Linked DNA regions of Homo sapiens: region 1 is linked to region 2. Evidence: fine-mapped expression QTL. A gene starts in region 2. The other region holds a variant in brackets. All regions are shown on one strand. Distances are between the middles of the regions.

The links.
Region 1: its variant is fine-mapped to the expression of GPR83 in cerebellar hemisphere (GTEx, PIP above 0.99). The same link has a PIP of 0.9 or more in cerebellum.

What each region holds. Positions count from the first base shown.
Region 1 is chr11:94,194,309-94,206,956 of GRCh38, forward strand. LOC105369435 (a long non-coding RNA gene) reads left to right here and starts at 3,101. Exons shown (of 5, transcript XR_947901.3): 1 at 3,101-5,683; 2 at 8,089-8,240. The variant G/A (reference allele first, on the strand shown) is at 6,304.
Region 2 is chr11:94,395,640-94,408,287 of GRCh38, forward strand. It overlaps GPR83 (G protein-coupled receptor 83), which reads right to left and starts at 5,780. Exons shown (of 4, transcript NM_016540.4): 1 at 5,222-5,780; 2 at 760-885. The coding sequence starts at 5,608.

The sequences.
Region 1 (12,648 bases), 200 kb before region 2:
TTTTCTTTATTCACATCGTAAGCCATGTTTGAAAAACGAGAAAATCCCAAACTATTGGAGCATTACAGACAGGCGATTTAGCATATTGAGAAAGCCCAATTTGAGTTTTGATATCAGAAAATCTGGTTTGGAGTCTTAGCTCTAATACTTCCAAGAGGTGACCCAGTGAGTCACTTAAAATGTTTTCCCTGTACCAGTGTCTACTCCTCAGGGTTGTTGTGAGGATTCAATGAGAATGATGTACCTGGCACTCTACAGGAGCTCAACAATAGCTATTTATCTTACCTCAAATAGAAACCCATTTACAATAGTTAAGTGAAAAGGACATCATTTCGAGCTGCTGCTCAGAACCCAATGGAGGCGAATTCAGCTGGGAAAGGATACTGGAAAGGCTATTGCTAAGACAGAAAAACTCGACCTCATCCAAGAGCAGCGAGACACCCTACCCTCAACCCCCAGGTTTTGTCACTGGGCCCTGTGTGAGTGGCAGCAAAGATGGCAGAGTTGTGAAGGTGCCGTGGGCATTTTTGGAATGACTCAAGAACATCTTTGACTCAGCACGGGCAACAGCCAGATGGACCTTGTGGGTGTGAACCTCCCGAGCATTTGGAGCGGAGGCTGGAGAAGCTACCCAGGGAACCCCAGCCCCCAGGGCCATTGTGCAAACCCGCGTGGGCACTGCCGGAGACACACACTCTGCCTGCTTCAGCGCTCCTCTCCCCGGGCCAGGGCTGCCAGCTCATCCTGCCCTGCCTGGCTGGGGTGGCAGAAGGTGAATCCCAAAACAGGCCACTGGCTCCTCTCATTTTCTACTCCTTTCTCTTTTGTCATTTATTAGTTTTAGTTTTAATTTTCAAAGATGATGCAAGCTATTGATGAGTATACATTTATTGCAAAAGAAAATCGGATAATATAGAAATATAGTCATGCATCACTTAACAATGTAGATACAGTCTGAGAAATGCTTCTTTATGTGATTCTGTCATGTGAACATCGTGGAGAACTTACCCAAACCTAGCTACTATAACCTAGATCGTATAACCATATGATGCAGCCTATTGCTCCTGGGCTACATACCTGTACGGCATGTTACTGTACTGAATTCTGTAACACAGCATTAAGTATGTGTGTATCTATCAACTCTAAACGTAGAAAAGGTGCAGTAATACCTTAAAAATAAGGTATGTTGTATGTGCAGTCTGTCCTCAACCGAAATGTTATCACTATGCAATGCTTGACTGTCTATGGAGTGAGGGTCCTCCATGCATTGCTGCCTTTCATAAGCCCAGTCTGGACTGCCCAGCAGAGTCACGGTTATCACCAGAGTGTCCACCTCCTTGCTCGTCTTGAGGTCTTATACTTTGCACCAAGCTGCCTTGGTCACCTGTTTAATGATTTTAGGACTGAATTGTTTCAGAAGGGAAAGAGCATCATAATTTTCTGACACATATTTAAGCATATTTTTCTATCAACATGTAACATTTTGGTCAAGTGCCACTAGTTTGAGGAATTCTTTTTCAACTGGATTTAAAGAGGCTCTGAAGGCCAGCAGATGCAGTTTTGCTGCACAACTTAAAGAACTTCCTTGATCTTCTAACAACACAATATTCAACCAAGAAATAATGATAATATCACTTACTCCAGAAGACTCTTGTGAGGGTTAAAAGAGGGAACAGATGTCAGCAACTACAATGCCTGGCACAGGTGAAGCCTAATATTAGTTCTGGTTATTTTATTAGAATCTGTTGTTGGCCTTACAGTAGAACTCTCAGTAATTTTTTACCGTATTTTCATGTTTTATTTTTTTATTTTTTTATTTTTGAGATGGAGTTTCGCTCTTGTCGTCCAGGCCAAAGTGCAGTGGCGTGATCTCGACTCACTGCAACCTCCACCTCACAAGTTCTCTCTTCTTAGCTCACCTCCACCCTGGGGTCCCCTCTTTCTTCCTGCAGCCCCCAGAACAAGCCGACAACCAACCTGCCCTCAGATAACTCCCCATCATGTCATCAGAAGAGACATGCACTCAGGTGGTGGTGCACAGGCTTAGGGGGCAGGCGGGAAGTCTCCTGGCCCTAGGAAAAGTTTCCTTCACAAAGCACCTGCTGTGGTAGGTGCTTTGCTAAAGCACACAGTCTAAATGAACTAGTTTACCCCTTACTATGTAATAATGAGTAGGTTGGCACCCTCCCCAGAAGAGTAAACAGAAGCCTGGGAGCTCCATGACCTGCCCAAACCACACGGCCAGGATCTAATCCTGGGCCAGCCTGACTCGAAAACCCGAGTCATGTCAGTGCTAACTGTGACCAGAGGACTGCTTGCATCAGAATATGTGGACATGCTTGTTAAAAAGGCAGATTCCTGGGCCTCTCCACAGACCCACTGAGTCAGGACCTCTGGGGCAGGGCCTGGGGATGTGCATTTATCACACCTTCCTGGTGACTCTGAAACATACCAACATCTGAGAATCCCTGCCCTGTGCTGTACTGCCTGCCTGTGCACTGAACCAGGGGGACCCAGCAGAAGACAGCTAGGAGAAGGGGAAGTTGTTCCAGAAGGATCAGAATCTGTCAACACCTGTTTATTAGGAAGATCTAGTGGCGTTTTTGGGAACCAAAGGAACAATGAAGGTCCCTGAGGACACCCCCACTATAGGCCATGCTAGAGGCCTGGTGCCCTGCACACATTTCTAGCTCCTTTCACCAGTTCCAAGAAAAGACAGTGTTCTGAGAGGGCACGTACATTCACAGAAGCAACAAGGCAGCACCAGCTGTGGCCCACTGGACTATCTTGGCTTCCCACCCTGACTCAAGGGCTGGGCATCCCTGATGGCCCTGTGCACCCCACCCCCATGAGTGTAGCCCACCCTGAACTGGGGCTGAGTGCTGCCAATGTGGTTGGCCCTCTGATAGGGTTTGGCTGTGTCCCTACCCAAATCTCAACTTGAATTGTATCTCCCAGAATTCCCAGGTGTTGTGAGAGGGACCCAGCAGAGATAATTGAATCATGGGGGCTGGTCTTTCCTGTGCTATTCTCGTGATAGTGAGTAAGTCTCACGAGAACTGGTGGGTTTATCAGGGGTTTTCGCTTTTGCTTCTTCCTTATCGTCTCTTGCCACTGCCATGTAAGAACTGCCTTTTGCCCTCTGCCATGATTGTGAGACCTCCCAGCTATGATGGACTGTAAGTAAAATTAAACCTCCTTTTCTTCCCAGTCTTGGGTATGTATCAGCAGCGTGAAAACGGACTAATACACATCCTTAGTTGGAAGGGAGCCAGAGGGGTCAGAAACATCCTTTATGGTGGAGGGGGCACTTTATGTTGGTTGTCTAAGTGAGTTTGGGCTGCTAGAACATGAACACCACAGACTGGGTGACTTAACAGAAATGTATTCCTCACAGTATGAAGTCTGGGAAGTCTAAGATCAAAGTGCTGGCTGATTTGGTTGTTGGTGAGAGCTCACTTCCTGGTTTGTGGAGGGATGCCTTCTCACAGTATCCTCACGTGACTGAGGGAAAGCTAGCTCACTCCCTGGCTGCTCCTTAAAAGACACTCATCCCATTCATGAGGGCTCTACCCTCATGATCTAATTACCCCCCAAAGGTTCCACCTCTAGACACTATCACATTGGGGATTACAGCTTCAAAATATAAATTTTGGTGAGACACATACATTTGGTCCATAGCACTGACGTCGTCTCATTTTGTAGTCCAATAGCAGGAAAAAGAGGGTCAATTATCCCCACTTTATAGATGAGGAAGATGAGTTCTGAGACAGGGTACGGAGGTAGAGTAGAGGGGGAAAGAAGCTAGATGAAGGGCGTCATATCCCCTAATTTGTCCTGAGGTAGGGAGGGGGAGAGCTGGTAGCTGTCACATGAGTGGTCACTATATAGACAAATAGTGGGGCCCACTTCCAGGGCAGGACTCAGAAGCACTAGTGGAGGGTCCAGTCCAGAGAAGGGACTCCACAAATGATGCCGCTGTAATTATTGTCTGATCATCTATTCATCACACATTTTCTGAGTACATCCTCTGTGGTGAGCACTACTCATATGTTCTTTATCATCCTCATGGACATGACACCCCACTTGGCCTGCGGTGGCTGGAGACCTGGGGAGGAGTCATATCACAGCTTTTAGACCCACTCTGACATCGAGGTTAAATGCAACTTTAGGGCCAGCAAGTACAAGCCTTATTCTGCCACTTACTAGCTGCAGGGCCTGGGGTGGCACTTGGCCTCCCAAGGGAAGGTGCTCTTTTCCCCATTTTACAATTGAGAGGACAAGATATGAGAGGTGAAAATACAGACCTCCCTGACTAGAATTCATTCTCCCAACCACCATGCACACTAGTGTTTCCCAGAGGTGGTCCTGCAGGCTTCAGAATCTTGTGAGGTGTTTGGAGAGTGATTCCTGACCCCTCCTCCGACTCAGTAAATCTTGACAGTGAGGCCCCAAAATATGAATTCTTCACAAGCTCTGAAGGTGATTCTTATGTGTGTTGGGGCTTGAGAATTGGCTCTCCTGCCTCCTCATTTCCAGTCTTTAAACAGGGATCTGCACAGCAGCAGGCAGCAGAAGTAGGCAGCGCTCTGGAAATACAGTTGGCAAAAGCTCTCTCCCTTAAAACTAACAGGGAGAGAGCTAACTCCATGACTGGCATGACATCTGTGAACAAAGGAAGTGACAGGGCCACCAAGAACTGCTGTGGGCCAGTGAGAGCAACAGAAGACCAGGTCCTAGCCTTCCCTGCTGAGAACTTTACCCATTGCCTAGTGAGAAGGAACTGGAGATGCCATCAGAGCTGCATCGTAGTAATGCTGGTAGATTTCAATTTTTACAATTTATATTTGTTATGAATGTATTCACCATTCCTTAGAGTATGTTTAATTATCCTCAGTCTTTGTTCTGCTTTTAAAATCCACATTGAAAAGGCAAAGTGACATGTGCTTAAGAGGTCTTTAATAAATACTTTGGTCAAGAACAGGGAGGGGGTAGTTTAATTCCTCCTGATTAGACCCGCCTACTTCCCGGCCATCTGAAATTTAAATTTAAGTAAAAGTCAGTATGCTTTCTAAATAAATGCAGTTTCACAACACAACCTTTAGCCCACACTCAAGCAACTATATGGCTGCCCCTAATTCCTCCTCTATTGACATTCAGGAGCTGCCAGGGTTTCTGTAAAAGTACCTGAACACAGTGGATCAACCAACAGTGGCTCTGGGGTTTAGAGTTTTGAGCAGCAGCTCAGAATGATATCCATCTGCCTTTCTGAATCACAGCCAACTTCTGGCCTCTCTGCACAGATTTGGTGCAGGAAACTAGCCATACCCACGCCCACACCCACAGCTCGCCCCGTGCCTCCTTCATCTTCATAATTCTGCTCCCACCCTCTTCCCTCTTCCTTGCCCTTCAAGTTGCAACACTGAACTGAGTTTATGGATGATGCTCAACAATTTATTGTTGATTAACTGATTGATTGATTCTGTTGCTATGGAAACCATCAGATTCTAGTACAACAGTGGGATTCCTTCCTGACTTTATGCTTGACAAAATGCTGACTCTCTGTGCTTGCTTCTCCCAGCTTGCCACCTCCATCTGGGTCAGGAGGAGCAATTGGAAGCAGAAGCTCCAAGAGAAAGGTGGGAATGTTGGTAAACCCAGGTGAAAAAAAGCAACAAGGAGGGTAAGTGGCCCTGCAATGTGGAAATTTCCATCAGAAGCAGCCTACACAGTGATTATAAGTGTCAGGGCTTTTAGATCAAGCTATACCTGGGTTCAAATCTCACTTCCTCCACTTATTAGGCTTAAGGTTAATTAAGCCTTTCAGCCTTCATTTTCTCATTTGTTTTAATTGAGATAATACTGTGCCTTTAGGTTGCCTGGAGAAATTACGAAATGATACAAGGAAGTTAGAAAGCAGAGTGCCTGGTACCTACGGGAGCCTTGCCCAGGCCAAGAGGGATGCAGACCTCCCATTTTTTAAGGCTCTTAGATAGAAAGTGAATAGCAACAATATTACATAAATTGAGGAAGAGCTTTATGTATACATTTTTTTGAATTATCACTTTTTTAGTACAAAAATACAATGCAAGATTATAGGAATTCTAGAAAATATTAATTCAAGGTTCCTCATGACTCTGTGTCTAGAAATTAGACACAAAGTCTGAATGATAAATATCTTCTTCTCAGGAAATCTTTGTGATTTTATTTATAAATTGTTTGAACATGATGTCATAGTCGAAACTTGTGGTCCTTTGTGACTGAGCTGCCCAGCATTCTGCCTCAATAAACCTCCCTGGACAG[G/A]GTAAGTGTTCATTTAGTGATGGCCACACCTGTCATCCCAGCACTTTGGGAGGCTAAAGTGAGTGCATCACCTGACATCAGGAGTTCGAGACAAGCCTGGCTAACATGGTGAAACCCTGTCTTTACTAAAAATACAAAAAAAATTAGCTGAGTGTGGTGGCGGGCACCTGTAATCCCAGCTACTCAGCAGGCTGAGGTAGGAGAATCACTTGAACCTGGGAGGCAGAAGTTGCAGCGAGCCAAAATCAAGCCATTGCACTCCAGCCTGGGCAACAAGAATGAAACTCTGTCTAAAAAAAAAGAAAAAAGAAAAAAAAATTAGTAATTTTCAGCATCATCATAATGTCTCCAGTGAAGCTGAAACCACCACACATACTGCAGATGGAGTTTTGTCACTGTACACTGCACAATGATAGGGACCCCTGGGGCACCTCCAGACAGCATGAAGGTGACTGACCTCCCTGTAGACTAACCTCCTAGACCCTGTGCATCAGTGTGACGAGTGCATGCATTTCATGACTCAGTTCAAACGGCAGCTCCTCTTTGAACAGGACCCTGGCTGCTCACTCATAGTAATGCCCTTTTGTGTACTCCCAGTGCAGTTTATTTATACATCTGTTTAATAATTACCAGATGCTTCCAGTGTTCCCTTTGCCCCCTTGGAGTTAAATTCTTCCCAGCCCTTTTGGAGTTAAATATGGCCACATGAATTTGATGAAGCAAACATGAGTGAAAGTGACATGCTCCTTACGAGCTAAGGCACAGTGTACTAGGGTTCCTTTCCCTCTGCCACAGCAACCAGCAACAGCTGCTATGTCAGCCTGGGCCCTAGAGTGAGAATTATATGAGTGGAGGCCATGAACATTTAGGACAAGGTTTGTTGATTAAAAACACTGAAAGTTGTCGATTGTTACTGTAGTATTAACTGACCTATACTGATTGATACATTCTGTTTTAGACTGACTGTATTGTAAAAATTCTGTTTATATGTTTGTCTGTCCTCATAACCAAGAATTTTTTAAGGGTACAAGCTGTGTCTTACTCATTTCTGATTCTGGAGCTTCCAGCACAGTGCCAACATGCACTCATATATACATAATGGATGCTTATTAATATGTGTTGGCTAGACAAGTAAACTTTAAGTGCGGTCTGTTTGAGATATCACTACATTCATTGATGGCTTCATGCCATTGCCACATCTATGCTTTTTTGGAATAAGGTCTTCATATTCCATTTCTTTATCACTTCTCGTCCTGTGGTATAAGAGGTCGTCTACCACGACATCATGGGTTATTCCCACATCTTCAGCAACTCTCCTGATTGTTTCAGACATCCATTCATCCATCCATCCATCCAGTCTTCCATCCATTCCTTTACTCATTTATACATATGTTCATTTATTCATCAAATATTGTCTGAATGTCCACTGTGTGCCAGGGACTGTGCAATAGGCTGGGAATATGGATATGCATAAAATGTATTTATCTCTCTCTCCTCTCCATCTTCCCTTCCCTGTGAAGGGACAGCAAGAAGCTCCAAAACAAAGGTGGAAATGGTGGTAAATCTGGATGAAAAAAAGCAATGGAGACGGGAGATGAGGGCACCTGTGATGTGGAAAATTCCATTAGAAGCAGCCTACACAGTGATTATGGGTATTGGTACTTTAGGCTCAATCTAGACCTGGGTTCAAATCTCAGTTATTTCACTGATTAGGCTTAACTTTAGTTAAGTCTTTTACTTTCTGTGTCCTCAATTGTAAAATTGGAATAATATCTGTGCCTTTAGGTTGCTAGGAGAAATGAATGAAATGATACAAGTAAGGTAGAAAGCAGAGTGCTTTCTACAAGCCAAGAAGTGGCCCCCCAACAGATACCAAGCTCTGGACCTCCTGGTGCCTTGATTTTGGACTTCCCAGCCTTTTTCAGACCTGTGAGAAAGTAAGTTTGTTGCTTAAACCACCCAGTCTCTGGTATTTTCATTACGGCAACATGAACAGACTAAAGGGAAAAAAAGACAAGCAAACAGATGTGAAAAATGCATTATATAACAAAAAATGGTTGTCAATGCTAAGTCTAAGTTGTTTTTATGAACAAAACCTTTCAAGTTTGAAAAATACTTCCCTAGTCTAATCATCTTGTTTTTCAGACAAAGAAACTGAGGATTTGCTGGGTCAGGGAAGCAACCTTTTGCTTAGAACTCTGCTAGGTGGCTTAGGGTGCTTGAGAATCATGAGGGTCTGACCTAACCCAAGAAAGACAAGCAGTTAGGACTAGCTCTCAGCCTAAGTTTGTCAGTCTGGCTTTCCAGATCCGCTTCCATGATACACCACTGAGGGTTTTTTGTGGAAAAAAAAAAGTCAGGGGCCAAATTGGTACCATTGAATATGCTAGAGCAACATCTATTAACAGACCACATGCAGGTCTAATGAAACACTCCCGGGGGGTTGTGTTCTCTCTGTTTGTGTATCAGCTAATAGGAGCCCTGACTGTCACAGGGCCAGAATGCATGTGGATGTACCAGCTGCACCTATGTGTGTTGGGGTGGGAGAGGTTTTCAGGGCTTGGTTAAGCTGCATAGGCCATGACCTTGTTCCCTGTGAGGAAGCCAGAGTGTCCTAGTGGATAGAGGAGTATGGCCCTTGTCCTGGACAGATTTGGGTTCAAATGCTGAGTCAGCCACTTAAATATGAGCGTACTGAATTTCCCCATCTGTTAAATGCAGATAACAATGTAAGTTTGTTGATAAGCGCCATTGAATAATTTACATAAAGCACAGAGGCTAGCCTATGAAAATCCACACTATATGGCAAATGTTATTGTTCCCAATGTCATCGTTAAATAAGATAACATATACAAAGTTATCAGGCCAGAGGGTGCTCAAAACAAATTATTTATTGTTTTTATTATCAATATTATATACAAAGCATGACATTCTTAATAAACCAGCTTTGGGATGTCAGCAAGTTGACAGAATAGAAGCTTTCTACTGTTATTCTTTTGCAGAGGCATCAGTTTTGACAAGTACTCATGAATAGTGGGAGTCTGGGAGTCCAGTGGAGAAGTTTTTGTTTTTGTTGTTTTTGAGATGGAGTCTTGCTCTGTCACCCAGGCTGGAGTGCGGTGGCACGATACCAGTGGAGAAGTTCCAGCACACTGTTGGAGAAAAAAATCTGAGAATAGATGCATGAAAAGAGTAAGAAGAACAGTTTTGGCCAGGTGCAGTGGCTCATGCCTATAATCCCAGCACTTTGGAAGGTCAAGGTGGGAGGAGCACTTGAGGTCTCAGGAGCTTAAGACCAGCCTGGGAAACACAGTGAAACTCTGTCTCTACAAAAAATGTTAAAAACAAAACAAAACAAAACTTAGCCAGGAATAGTGGCATGTGCCTACAGTCCCAGCTACTCAGGAGGCTAGAGCAGGAGGATCACTCGAGCCCAAGAGTTCCAGGTTACAGTGAGCTATGATCACACCACTATACTCCGGCCTGGGAGATAGAGCAAGACCCTGTCTCTTAAAACATAAAATATACAAAAAGAGTTTCACATTACGCACATCACCTCTCCTCTATGGTGGCATAGCTTGGTGCCAAGAGACACCCCCACCCAGTCCCATTTCTCCCATAGGGGAAAGTAAGAGCATAGTGAGTGACCATCCATCTCTCCCAGTCATGCAAGGTGCTGCCAACGAGGCCCACCTCTTTCTTACCTCACCTGTATTAGTGAGGTGATCAGCAAAGCTGACAGGCTGGGAGAGTCTGGGAGCAAGGAAGAGATGTTGTGTACCCTACTAACTGCTCCATAGATTCCATCAGGAAGATTGCCCATGAGCTGTTTGGGACACCTCATCTATGGACCCCCTCCACACCTGATCCACCAGCATCCCAAATGCTCTGTGCACCTCATCTTCCCTCCCCAGGCCAGCTCCTCCTCAAGCCTGTCCCCGTGGATGGTAAGTTCATCCCATGCAGATAGCTGACTTGACTGTACAGGATTAGGAGAAGGCATACAAAGTTGAGCGTTTCAGGGCACTACCCTGTGGAAAACAAATGAGAGGCTTTCAACATCTGATCTGGCTTTGTGGGATTGAGAGAGGCAATACAATCTCAAGAATTCCCTGCCAAAAGGGAACAAGAAGTATGAAACAGGCACATTCATAAAAAAGTTTTGAGTGAGCCTCAGAATCCATAGGCAGGATAACTGGTATAGGCATTTCTTTCCTTTTCCTGAAGCCAGTCAGTAAAGACTGAAAAAAGTGATTGTTTTTTCAAGTGTACAGACAGCAATACAAGACCTCAAGGAACAGGAAAAATTAAGGAAACATGACAATACGAAAATAACACAATAATATTTCAGTAACTGATGCCAAAAAACGGTCATCTACAGATTGCCTGACAAAGAATTCAAAGTAATTGTTTTAACCATTGTAGCTCAGAAAGCTACAAGAGAACACAAATAAAAAACTAAATGATATCAAGAAAACAATACCTGAACTAAAGTTCAATAAAGAGATAGGAGTCACTTAAAAAGAACCAGACAAAATTCCAGAGATACAGAATATAAGGAATAAAATTTAAAAATGCAATAGAGTTAACAGCAGACTTGGTCAAACAGAAGAAAGAAACTATGAAATCAAAGACAGGTTACTTGAAAATGTTGAGTCAGAGGAGGAAAAGGGAAAAAAGAATTAAAAAAAGAAGACAAAAGCCTAGAAGATTTATGGGATACCATCAAGAAAGAGCTAACATTCATGTTATGAAAGTATCAGAAGGAAAAGAGAGAGAAAAGGTTGCAGAAAACTTATATGAAGAAATAGTGGCTGAAAATTTTCTCAACCTAGGGAGATATGTGGATATCCAGTACACGAGACTCAAAGGATCCCAAATAGGTTCAACTCAAGGAAGACTTCACAGACACATTATAACTGAACTATCAAAAATTAAAGAGAATTTTGATAGCAGCAACAGAAAAGAGTCTTGTCACATACAAAGTAATCTCTAACATTATCCGCAGGCTTTTGGCAGAAACCTTACAGGCCAGGAGAGAGTGGGATGATACATTCAAAATGCTGAAAGAAAAAAATTTTCAACCAACAATACTTCACCCATCAAAGCTGTCCTTCAGCAATGAAGAAGAAAGAAAAGCTTTCCTAGACAAAGAAAAGCTGATGGAGTCCATTCCCACTAGACCTATCTTACAAGAAATGATAAAGGGTGTTCTTTAAGCTGAAATGAAAAGATGATAATCAGTAACATGAAAACATTTGAAAGTCTGAAACTCAGTGGTAAAGCTAAGTCAAATAGAATAATACTGTAGTGGTTCTTTGTAAATCACTTATAAGTATAGTATAAAGGTTAAAAGATGAAAGTATTAAAAATAGCAATAGCTATAATAATTTGTATAGGATGCAACAAAAGCAGTTCTATGGGAGAAGTTTATAGTGGTAAAATGTCAACAGGAAGTTAAAATAAGTCTCACATAAACAACCTAACTTTACACATCAAGGAACTAGAAAAATAAAAACTAACATCCTAAAGTTAATAGAAGAAAGAAAATAATGAAAATCAGAGCAGAAATAAATAAAAAAGAGAGAAACAAAAGATGAACAAAACTAAGACTTGGATTTTTGAAATGATAAACAAAATTGATAACCTTTTAGCTGGACTAAGAAGAAAAGAGAGAGGACTCAAAATCAGAAAAAAGGAGACATTACAACTGATACCACAGAAATACAAAGGAGCATAAGAGACTATTATTAACAATTATATACCAACAAATTAGATAACCTAGAAGAAATAAGTAAGTTCCTGAAACATATAGTCTACCAGACTGAATCACAAAGAAAGAGAAAATCTGAACAGACCAATAATGAGTATGGATATTGAACAAGTAATAAAAAGCCTCCCATCAAAGAAAAGTTCAGCACCTGATGACTTCACTACAGAATTCTACCAAATATTTAAGGAACTAATACAAATCATTCTCAAACTCTTCCAAAAAATTCAATAGAGGGAACACTTTCAAACTCATTTTGCAAGGGCAACATTACCCTAATACCAAAACCAGACAAGAAAACTGAATTATAGGCCAATATCTCCGATGAACATAGATTCAGAAGTTCTCAACCAAATACTAGCAAACCAAATTCAACCACACATTAAAAGGACTGCACACCATGATTAAGTGGAATTCATCCCAAGGGTGCAAGGATGATTTAACATATGCAAATCAATAAATGTGATATATCACATTAACAGAATAAGGGATTTAAACCATATAATCATCTCAATAGATGCAGAAAAGGCCTTTGGCAAAATTCAATTTCCTTTTTTAATGTCCTTTTATTTTTA
Region 2 (12,648 bases):
CTTCTTTGATGTCCTGGTCAGTTCCTTTCACCATATATACCCATGAGCTTCCCATGGGGGCAGAACTATTAGAACATCTTCCTGACCCAGGGCCACCATGCTCCACTGCAATGCCTGCTCCTGCCACCTGGACATCCTGGCTTGTTTTCCGTCTGAACAGCCTGAATTGGTGAATATTCATCTCTCACTCATCTCTGACCTGCAATTACTCCTCTCTCCTTTCATCTGTGATTTTCCGGGTTTGCTTTTCTATCCTCAAACAAGCTCACTAATTTCTGAGACAGAAAATGCCAGCAATGGCCGGGCATGGTGGCTCACGTCTGTAATTCCAGCACTTTGGGAGGCTGAGGCGGGTGGATCACCTGAGGTCAGGAGTTCGAGACCAGCCTGGCCGACATGGCAAAACCCTATCTCTACTAAAAGTACGAAAACTAGCCAGGCGTGGTGGCGAGCACCTGTAATCCCAGCTACTCAGGAGGCTGAGGCAGGAGATTTGCTTGAACCCAGGAGGCGGAGGTTGCAGTGAGTCGAGATGGTGCCACTGCACTCCAGCCTGAGCAACAAGAGTGAAACTCTGTCTCAAAAAAAAATTATGACAAAGGGCTTAATATCCCTAACCTATGTGTTCATGTTGATCAATAAGAAGAGAAACACACTCATTGAAAACTGGGCTAAAACACTGTCTTCAGAGCCCCTGCAACTTCCAGGAAAGGGAAGCAAGAGAGGGAAGAGCAGAGCATTAGGGGTAGGTGCCCTCACCTGGTGGCGATCCACCGCAATGGCTGTCAGTGTCAGTGCTGAGACGTGCAGTGAGCAGTACTGGGCAAAGCGGCTGACATGGCACATGCCCTTCCCAAATATCCATGTGCTGTTCACAAAGCGAACCTGGAGATGAGCCCAAAGATGTTAGGAGACAGACAGGCCTTGACTTTGACACCCATCCCTAGAGGTCTCTGAGGAGCATGCCCTTAGGGGGATTCCTCCAGCTCCTCCCTTCTTTCTGTCTATGATACTGAATTGTGGAGTAAACATGATTTTCTCCAGCACAACTCATTTTCATTCATTCAATTCAACAAACCCTGATCATGCTTCTGGGCCAGGCTCCATTAGGTGCCAGGAGAGCCTGGGAAGGATGTGTGCTATGGAGTTGGACTTCCCACCTCTAATAGTTTCTTACTGTGAGGGCTTGGGCAAGATAGGTAACCTCTCTGAATCTGTTTCCTCATTTGCAAAAAAAAAAAAAAGCCCTAAAAAATCTCTTCCTTATAGGCTTAGTATAAGGTTTAAATTTTTTAAATGTCTGTAAAGGGCAAAACACAATGTCTGGCAGATTGTTCAGATATTATTAGAAGTAAATAGTAGCTATCTTTATGTGCAATAACAAAATTCATTCTTGGTCCACACAAGTTCACTCTAGTAGGGGAGACATATCTGAATTGTCACAACATAGCATGTGGGCTGTGCTGGCAAATCTTGGCTAAACTGGCCTTGCAAGTCATCATCTGGGGAGGACACCCAGGGACCTGGAGAGGTATGAACAGGTGTGGGGAGAGAAGACAAGCTCCCCAAACCGTGTAGGGCCCTAGAAGCAGGCCCGGTCCTTATCCCACATCACCCAGCACTATTTACTCATTCAATTAGTACTTGAGCAGCTCCTGTGAGTAACGTCCCATGCCTGAGAGAGATTGAGCATTGATTCTGATTAAGGAGTTTGCAGCCAGGGCAGAGGCGGGCTCAACTCAAGTGCAAGACAGAAAGTAATCAGTGCTCTGTAGAGACTGATTAAAGGGCAATGGGGCCACCACATAGGGATGGGAGTGGGCAGAGGCACAGAGGCATAGAAATAGGGCAAGTTGGCCCAAGAGAAGGAGTATAATGTAGTGACTTACAGCAGGGTGTTTGCCACTGATCACTGTGACCTTGGGCAAGGCATTGGGCCCTCTGAGCCCCACTTTCCTCATCTGTAAAATGGGCTAACCCTTTTCACATGGTTGTTACATCAATCAAGATTGTTAACACATGTAAAGTAGGTACAACAGTGCCTAGTACATAGCAAGTACTTAACGCTATCAACTGCCATTATTACAACATATGAGACATTTGAACTGAAGAGGGATTTGCACATGTGGAGATGAGGACAAAAGGCATTGGCACTGGATCAGAAATCCCAGGACCTGTTTGGGGAATAAGGAGTGGATTGGCTTGTCTGGAGTGTGTGAACAAGAGTCATGTCAAGTCCGGCCAGATCTTGAAACTAGGACAACAGACCAGGGATGTTACTTTCTTTGCAGAGGACAGGGAGGAGCCATTGAGGCTTTTGAGCAGTTCAGTAACATTATAGAGCTAGAAATCTTCAGCTATTCCAACTTCTCACCCTTCACATTGGGATTACCAAATCCAACCAGTTCTGCCTCTCACTGATTTTCAAAACTGTTCCCTCTTCTTCAGTCCCAAGGCCATGGGCCTTGTGGGGTACCCCATTATCTCTCCCTTGGACTATTATAGCCTCTGAACAGCTTTCCCAGTTCTCCAGGTTTGTCACCTTGGAATTCAGCCTTCACACTCCTGACAGCATTTCTGCTAACCACAATCATATTGTTGTCACCCTCCTGTTTGGAATCATCCTGGCTCTCAGGACAGAGTATCCAGGCCCCTTCACAACCTGGCCCCGCCTTTCCTTCTGGCCACCTCCGCTTCTCCCTCCCCTGCCCACTCCTCCGCTGTGCTTCCTGATGCTCCAGCTTCATTGAGCCACTCAATGTTCCCTCAACACAAAGTGAACTTTGATGCTTCGATGCCTTTGTTCTCCCTGGTCCCTCTGTCTGCACTAAGTGTTCATCTCAACCCGGGAAATTTCTATTCAGTCAGGTCCTGTTGAAATGTCACATTCTTTGCAGTCTCCTTTGACCCTCTCGTGGGACTCTGATGGGTCAGAATGAAAGACTCCCTCCTCTACGTTCTCTGTGCATCTATCTTTATCTACCATGGGAACTGTAAGTAATTGTCTGCTTTTCTGTCCATCATCAGAGCTAGGCTTCATGCTGACTGCAGTAGATTAAGTGGACAGGAAGGGAGACCAGGGAAGAAGGATATTGTTGCCAATCAGGCAAAGGCAGGGATGCCTTTCCCGATGGGGGAGCCTGTGCTGAGTAAGGCCAAGGGGTTGGAAGTCCCTCCCCACAACCTTCTCCCTTTCCTACCTGCCAGCACCTTATAAACTGTAATCCAAGTTTGGATTGGGGCAGCTTGATGGGTCAGGTTCAAGGCTAAGCTGCTTTGGCTCATACTGGAGGGGGTGCTGGGCTCTGAGGACCTTGGCATCCTGTCTCTTGCAGGAGATCCTCTGGGGCAGGTATTGCCAGCTCTCAGGTGTAGCCTGTCCTCGCGTCCATGGCCTCCCTACCCCTTCTTGTGTCTGCTGCAGATCCAGCCCTGTATCCTGGCTCTGGGCAGCAGCAAAAAAGGCCATGTTCTGTGGCTTCCCAGTTCCCAACCTAGGTAGCACAGCCCAACCGTACCACTGTAGATTCTCAGGTCAGAAACCAAGGGAGGCGCCAACGGGTGACAGGGATGCTGTTGTCTTGTGCTTTGAGACACCCAGGGAGGAGGAGAGTATTTGAAAGCCCACTCATCCTTGGGTAATGCCCAGGGGATATTAAGTGGCCATCAATACGTTAGACGTAGGCTGAAAGGAGATCAGAACAAGTCCAGGGTTTGGAGTAGCAGAAGCTAAACATGGTCCAAGAGTGTCCTTCACTCCCAGCTGGCTGGTTAGTGGACCGACCTCTGGATTTGAGTTAGGGGATGGAATTCTCATCCTGGCTCTGCCAACTACTGGCCAGGTGGCTTTGGACAAGGGATTGAACCTCTCTGTGCCCTAGTTTTCTCATCTGCAAAATGTGAGTAATATTCTAATAAGTGAGGATGAGAAAGAGAATGTGAGGGTACTTTTTCAATATAAGATTTGGAAGGATGTTCACACAGGTGATGGACTTGTGGGGGTTCATCCTGTGTTTTTTGCTTGTCTGTTATATCTGGTTGTGTATGAGAGATGGCAAGGAGACAGACAGAGAGGGATTAATAGATATTGCTTTAGTAATCACTCAAATGACAAAGTTATTCCATAAAATGAAAAAATATAACACACTAGAGAAACATGCAGTATAACTGTCACTATGGTTGCTCAGTCATCGCCCTTACAGTCCCAAATCATCCATGAGAGCCACACTCCCCGGTCACAGCGGGACACCACCAGCGCTAAGTAGCCAGGGCTTGGGGAAGAATCCCATCAGCTGCCAATGTGCAAATGCCCCCAGCCTGCCCGATTTCTGGGGCCCAAGCCCACCTCCCCTCATTTCTTCCTCAACACAGACCTCAAACACAGCCTCATTATCAACCCACAGAAGGGAAATGCACTTTAAATAAGTGGTCTGGGAAAATGCACTTAATGTTCCATTAACAATTAGCAATTGTTTGATATTTCAGTTGTAGCACAAAGCAGTATCCCATGGGTACGGCTGGGCACTGAACAGGCTGCAATTCAGAGGGAGGGGGACCTGATCATCTCTGCTGACATTTCAGGGGCATTGATTTACTGCTCAATTATCAAGCAAGCCCAGACCCAGTGAGATTAAACAGGAAATGGTCATTCATTTCCAGCTGGCTGCAGACACTCAAACCATTGACCCAATGCCACCGCCGCAGAAGCTCTGGCTGATAAGGCGATGAGACAGAAAAAAGTGGGGAGAAATCAGAGAGTGAGGCAGGGGAGAGAGGAAGAGAGGAGAGGTGGGGAGAGGAGAGGAGAGGAGAGAGAATAGAAAAATAAAATCACAGAGAGACTGACAAGAAGAAAAAGAGATAACAGGTGAGGAGACAGAGACAGATGAATAGGGAGGCTGAAAGACAAAAAAAAAAAAAAAGATGAGGACACTGAGAGATAGAGAAGAGAGACAGAAAGACTTCAGAGAGAGAGACAGAGACTGAAAGAAAGACTAAGAAAAACAGGAGAGATACAAGAACCGAGATGACAGAGGAGGGAGAAAAGAGACTAGGACAGGAAGACAGAGGCAGAGGAGAGGAGAAATGAGGAGGAAGAGAGATGTGGAGAGAGAAGTGGGGACCCACAGGGAGACGCAGAACGGCAGAGGGAGGCCAGAGAACTGAGAGAGGAAAGGGAGACGAAGACAGAAGGTGGGGCGGCAGGCAGCGGGCCCCTTACCAAAGTGAAGGGGGTGTTGAGCAGCGTGATCATTATGTCGGCAACTGCCAGGTTGACGATGAAGAGGCTGGTGGCCGAGTGCATTCGCTGGTTCTTGAAGATGACATGACAGACCAGGACGTTGCCAAAGAGTGAGAAGACAATGATGAAGGAGTAAGCCACAATGAGCAGGGCTTTCACCGTGGGGTTCTGGGACTCAGCGCCGTAGCGCCTCCTGCCCACAAAGTTCTGCCAGTCGGAGAAGGTGTAGTTGTTCCAAGAGAAGAAGTGCGAGGCATTGGGCACGGCCAGGGCCGCCTCCGCGCTCTGCTCGTCGGCCCGGCCCTCGTGGGGCTCGGTGGCTCGCACCAAGGGGAGGAGACAGAGCAGCAAGAGGTGAGGGACCATTTTGCAGGAGCCACCCCTCCCCTGGGAGCCTGCGGGCCGGGCGTCCCCTCCCGCTGGGATCGGAGCGCGCAGCCGGGGTGCGGGGCGCACAGCATACAAGGCCGTCCCGAGGAGCCAGGGAGCCCGGACGCGCGGAGCACCGCGCCGCCCGCCACCAGCCCGCGGTCGGCACGCCAGCTCCGGGTTTGTTGGAGCACTTTTATATCTCTGCTCCCACCAGGCTGCTAGGGAGCGCCTCTGCCTATTGGGCAGCGCGGCGTCTCTCGCGGCGACGGTGACGCGCTCTGGCTCTGACAAGCCTGGCTCCCCCCACCCTACCGGGTGGCGCCGTTGCTGACCCCACGCCCAGCCGTTCCCACTCCCGCCTGAAACTCCTCCGACAGGGCTTCGCTTCGGGGGCTCAGTCCCCAGCGCGTACACACTCGCGTGGTGTCGGCTTAGCCTCTTGTAAAGGAAGCAGGGCAGGCAGGTGGGAGGAAGCCCACAGGGGCACTTGGGATGATGAGGGGGCATGCTGGCAAAGCCGGGTCAGTGACAAGGATATATTCCATTTGTTTCCACCTAAGCCTTAGCCTTGGCACAGTTTCAATATCGAAATGGATCGCTGCGTCCCGGCGGTCCCAGGAAAAAGGCAAACCAAAAAATAGAGACGTTAAGGATTCTCCAAGTCCCCGGAGTATCCAGATACCAGAGGTGCTGGAGGGCTTATTAAAGGATTACAGTTTCTTTGACAGCCCCCAGGAATGCAATCTGGGGAGCTTTGTTTTTCAAGGAAACTCTTCAAAGCAGTTCGGATACCATCAAAGAAGCGAAGGAAAAGAGAAGTTTAGCTGTGTGCTCACCTCTTGGGTAACTTGAATTTTTCTGCCATGGAAGTCCTTGAAGCTATATCTTTAAGGGATATTATGACCCATGCTGTTTTTCCTTCCCCATCTACTTCTTCAGGAAACCTTGCTATCCTGCTCACCCGTTTTCACTTCCACTGTGAAAACTCTCCCAGTCACTGGGTCCTCTGCCACCCACAAGCCTGTAGTAAAGACCATGGGCTCTGTAATTAGGGTTTAATCCCAGCTTTGTCACTTCCTAGCTGTGAAATCTTGGGCAAGCCATTTAACATTTTTGGCCTTGGTTAAAAGGCTTTCTTTTCCTAAATGTGAGGTTTTCAGAGACCCCTGTATACATCTCTCACTGCATTGCCCTCTGGTGCAAGACATGCAATATCTGGTTGACTACTGGTAACCACCCCTGACCCCCAACAGGAAACACCATGTAGATTCTTTACATTGTGTCAACGTGCCCTGGGGAGCAATGTCCTTGGGCTGGGACCCAAACAATGACTCAAACCTAGGTATTACTCTTGTCTCCAGTTTTCCACTTCACATGTACTCTTCAAGCAACTGTGTCTGGAGGAAAGGATGGCTAGCAGATAACCCTCAATTATACTGAAGGACCTGGCAGGTCTCACAGGATTAAATGGCTGAAATAGGGGATTATGTGACAGATCCTAGAAGGGACAAGGTGCTAGGCCGATGAAATAATACATCTTTAGCTCCAGGAAATAAACCAAGAGACTGCCTGTAAACACTGAAAGCTTGGGGGCCGGGCGCGGTGGCTCACGCCTGCAATCCCAGCACTTTGGGAGGTCGAGGCGGGCGGATCCACGAGGTAGGAGACCGAGACCATCCTGGCTAACACGGTGAAACCCCATCTCTACTAAAAATACAAAAAATTAGCTGGGCGTGGTGGCAAGCGCCTGTAGTCCCAGCTACTCAGGAGGCTGAGGCAGGAGAATGGCGTGAACCCGGGAGGCGGAGCTTGCAGTGAGCCGAGATCGCGCCACTGCACTCCAGCCTGGGCGACAGAGCGAGACTCCGTCTCAAAAAGAAAAAAGCTTAGGTAGACTTGCTGCTCCATCAAGATGACCTGGCATCATCTTGAGAGGCAAGGCCGGAATATGATGGTCATTTAGAAAACAGAATCCTAGTCAATTGACTGTGCCCAGTGTCAACAAAGAGTGTATGGATAGAAGAGGAATAGTCAGCGTCAAGCTCAGAGAAAGAAATCAAAGGTAGCCAGTGCCCTTCCAAGCACTCTCTTCCAAGTACCACAGAAGGTGCTTGCTAGCCGGCATATTTGTAATCTGGGCCACCTAACTAATGTCTTCACTTTGATTCCCTGCTCATCATGCCCACCTTGTAAGTGTGAGGGCATTTACACCAGAAGCCTGAAACTTTCTTTCTGAAAGAGGTGAGGTGTTTTAGTTCTTAGCTTTCCCCAAAAGCATCTCCTGTGACAAATACTCTAGTGAGAGGGTTCATTTGGGAGATGAAGGCAAACACCAATAGGGAAGTGGAGAAGTGTGACAAGAAAGGGAAAGCAACCAATAGAGTTTTGTCAAGCCAGCTACCACTGTGGGTGACAAGCTGAAGCCTGCTGGGAAGCCAGTGTAAGGTGTACACATCAGCTATCCAAGCCAAGGGGTGACAGAGCTGTGGTATCTGTACTCCACCTCCTGTTAGTCACTGGTTGAAGGCTTCTCCCAGGGGTCTGCTCCTTCTCCCAGGATGCTCCTGAACTTCTGGCCTGCCATGTGGATAGCCAAAATGGGCTCCAGAGGCAAAACAAGGGCTCAGGCAAATAAATGCTACTGCTGGCAGTTGCAAGTTGCACTGGTGTGCTCTGAAGGGGGAGGCGGTCCTGAGAAAATCCAAGGGTAGGCATGAGGTCTGGAATCACTTCCTCTTCCTCTTCCCCAGGCATTCAGCTCTCCACTCAGCCAGGCCTGGGCCTCCTGAGCCCTGCCAAGCCCTCCTCTTAGCCCAGCACCACTGTCCCAAACTTATCCTGAACTCCTGAAGTCACAGTCTTTGAGACAGAGTCTCGCTCTGTCACCCAGGCTGGAGTGCAGTGGCGTGATGTCGGCTCACTGCAAGCTCCGCCTCCTGGGTTCACGCCATTCTCCTGTCTCAGCCTCCCAAGGAGCTGGGACTACAGGCGCCTGCCACCACACCTAGCTAATTTTTTCTATTTTTTTGTAGAGACGGGGTTTCACTGTGTTAGCCAGGATGGTCTCGATCTCCTGACCTCGTGATCCACCCGCCTCGTGATCCACCCGCTTCGGCCTCCCAAAGTGCTGGGATTACAGGCGTGAGCCACTGTGCCCGGCCGAAGTCACAGTCTTTAATGAAACAAGAATATCCCTTCACCTTACCTCACACGAAGGCTGAGTTATTAAAAGTAGTTCTTTTCTCAGAGGCGTTATGGTAAATCACTGTAAATCACTGTTGCTCTTACTAAGTGGTTACAGGAAGATACAAGCAGCTCTTACAGTGAACCAACCTCTTGTTTTTGTACATTACAAATAAAACCAAAGACACTGAATAGTCAGTTTGTGCCAAATAGTAAGTATATTCCTAGATCTCTAGTAATAGTCACACACAGTAAACACAGAAAAGAGCAGAGGGTTTCACTCTCTCAAATGTACTTGAAACAAACAAAAAAACCAATAAACCACTTCACACTATTTTAATAAAAATGAGACCAAGAATTATAGAACACAGTAGTCCCCCCTTATTGATGGGGTAAACATTCCAAGATTCCTAGTGGATGCCCAAAACTGTGGATAGTATCAAACCCTATACAGGCTACACATGAATTTCTTTTTCCGTCTTCACAATTTCATGGATAGAAGATTCGTTCTTATTACAGATCTTAGCAGCCTCAGCTTACGATTTTTCCCTCCTTCCTTATTAAATCAAGAACTTTCACCTTTTCACATAAAGGAAGTATTTTATAGCTTCTAGCTGGCATATGCTAATTGCCAGCATTGCTACTCTTGCAGCTTTGGGGCTACTATAAGTAAAATAAAGGTTAGTTGAACACAAGCACTGCAATACCTTGACGGGAGCTCTGACAACTGAGGTGGCTACTGAGTGACTGAGGAGGAGGTACTGCATGGATATGCTGAACAAAGGGAGGATTCACATCCTGAGTGGACAGAGTAGGGTGGTGCAAGATTTCATCAGAAACTGCAGAAAACGAAACCTTGGATAAAGTGAGACTACTGTAACATCACATAGAGGCCTACGAAAGAGGTTTTGAGAGTCTCACCACATCAGTATTCCTGACGCTGCAAACAATGCCTTTTTATCACCAATATTATTCTCTGAAAAGGCCCTACTTGAGTTAAAAACTCACCACACTCACATTTCCTTATGGTACTAATCACAGTGGCAGAAGGGAACAAACAGCAGTTCAACACAATGCCAGGCACATGACAGTCAATCCTAGTTTAATTGTACCAGTTGTATGTCATCATACTTGAATTACAAATGAACCAAGTAAGCCTGAAATACCAAGTACAGCTGAAGATATGCTCAAATGCAATAAAAATGCAAAGTGTGTAGGCAGGCTAAGCTAGGAATTGCTTTCCAAGTTCCAGCACACTGAGCCATAGAGTAAAAAGGTATATTTAGGATATGCAAAAAGAAGTACAACCAAGCTCCAACTTCAGTTTGTGGCCCCAAATTAAATTCTAAGTTGCTTGAACTTACTCTGCAGTTCTACATAGAAATTTTTCTAAATGGTGGCTAGGGTCTTAAGCCAACTCCAACAACCCATTTAACCCATATACGGATAAATGGTAGCATTTATCGTAGCATTGCTAGCTAAAGTTCAGGGCTCCAAGATGTTATGCTCCATTATCTGCTCCTCTTGAATTAAATGTCCCCCTGGGTGATCGCAGCCACCTTCACTGGTTTAACCATCCATTACTCACCAATGACTCCAAGATCTGTACCTCACTTACCACCTGTTAAAAGCTCCAAACCCGTATTATGTAACATTTCACTGTTGATCGGACATTATGACCTGGAATACCCACCCACTTCAACAAGCTCCAAACTCAATTCATTATGTCCTGCTCTTCCCTCACTTTCTTGTACTTGCTCCTTTTCCTATTCACTTGTCCACCATGGTTAGAATCTTGTGGTCATCTCACACATTACCAATTACATGACACTGTGTATTTGAGGATGCTGTTTCTCTGCCTACAGTCATCCACTCCACCACCTTAGAGCCAGAAAAACTCTATTCTTCAAGACCCAGCTCAAATGTTATCTCCCCTCTGAAGACTGTCTGACCCCCTTGACTGCCACAACCCCAGAACAAGCAAAGTCAGTGTTCCCAAATCTGCTCTTTTAAAAGTGCTCCCATAACATATGATTCATTCTCTGATACTATACTTTCCTTGTTGGGGTCTCATGATTTGCTACACGTCTATTTCCTATGAAACTGTCAGCATTACCAGGCCAGGAACTACTGTCTTCCTAATGTTGTCTCCTACAGCCTAGTACTAAGACAGGGAAAACAGGTAGTACTAAGGTTGAGATACTGTCTCTGGAATCAGACAACCCAGGATGCAGGTCTTTATCTCTCTAAATACTCTTTTATCTCTCTAGTAAGTTCCTGGGACATATCTAATTATTATTTTATTTTATTTTTCCATAAGCTATTGGGGTACAGGTGCTGTTTGGTTACATGAGTAAGTTCTTTAGTGGTGATATGTGAGATTTTGGTGCACCCATCACCCGAACAGTATACACTGCACCATATTTGTAGTCTTTTATCCCTCACCCCCCCCACTCTTCCCCCAAGTTCCCAAAGTCCATCGTATCATTCTTATGCCTTTGCGTCCTCATAGCTTAGCTCTCACATACCAGTGAGAACACAGAATGTTTGGTTTTCCATTCCTAAGTTACTTCACTTAGAATAATTTCTCCAATCTCATCCAGGTCACTGCAAATGCTGTTAATTCATTCCTTTTTATGGCTGAGTGGTATTCCATTGTATATATATATATATACACCACAGCTTCTTTATCCACTTGTTGACTGATGGGCATTTGGGTTGGTTCCACGATTTTGCAATTGTGAATTGTGCTACTATAAACATGCATGTGCAAGTATCTTTTTCGAATAATGACTTCTTTTCCTCTGGGTAGATACCCAGTAGTGGGATTGCTGGATCAAACGGTAGTTCTATTTTTAGTTCTTTAAGGAATCTCCACACTGTTTTCCATAGTGGCTGTGTTAGTTTACATTCCCACCAACAGTGTAGAAGTGTTCCCTGATCACCGCATCCATGCCAACATCTACTGTTTTTTGATTTTTTTATTATGGCCATTCTCGCAGGAGTAACGTGGTATCGCATTGCGGTTTTGATGCATTTCCCTGATGATTAGTGATGGTGAACATTTTTTTCATATGTTTGTTGGCCATTTATGTATCCTCTTTTGATAACTGCCCATTCACGTCCTTAGCTCACTTTTTGACGGGATTGTTTTTTTTCTTACTGACATGAGTTGGCTGCAGATTCTGGATATTAGTCCTTTTGTCAGATGTATAGATTGTGAAGATTTTCTCCCACTCTGTGGGTTGTCTGTTTACTCTGCTGACTGTTCCTTTTGCCATGCAAAAGCTCTTTAGTTTAATTAGGTCCCAGCTATTTATCTTTGTTTTTATTGCATTTGTTTTTGGGTTCTTGGTCATGAAATCCTTGCCTAAGCCAATGTCTAGAAGGGTTTTTCCAATGTTATCTTCTATAATTAGTCCTTTCCCCACTTTATGTTTTTGTTTGCTTTGTCGAAGATCAATTGGCTGTTTAAGTATTTGGGTTTATTTCTGGGTTCTCTATTCTGTTCCACTGGTCTATGTGCCTATTTTTATAGTGGTACATGCTGTTTTAGTGACTATGGCCTTATAGTATAGTTTGAAGTGAGGTGGTGTGATGCCTCCAGATTTGTTTTTTTTTGCTTAGTTTTGCTTTGGCTATGTGGGCTCTTTTTTGGTTCTATATGAATTTTAGAATTTTTTTTTCTAACTGTGAAGAATAATGGTGGTATTTTGAAGGTGACTGCATTGAATTTGTAGGTTGCTTTTGGCAGTATGGTCATTTTCACAATATTGATTCCACCCATCCATGAGCATAGGATGTGTTTCCATTTGTTTGTGTCATCTATGATTTCTTTCAGCAGTGTTTTG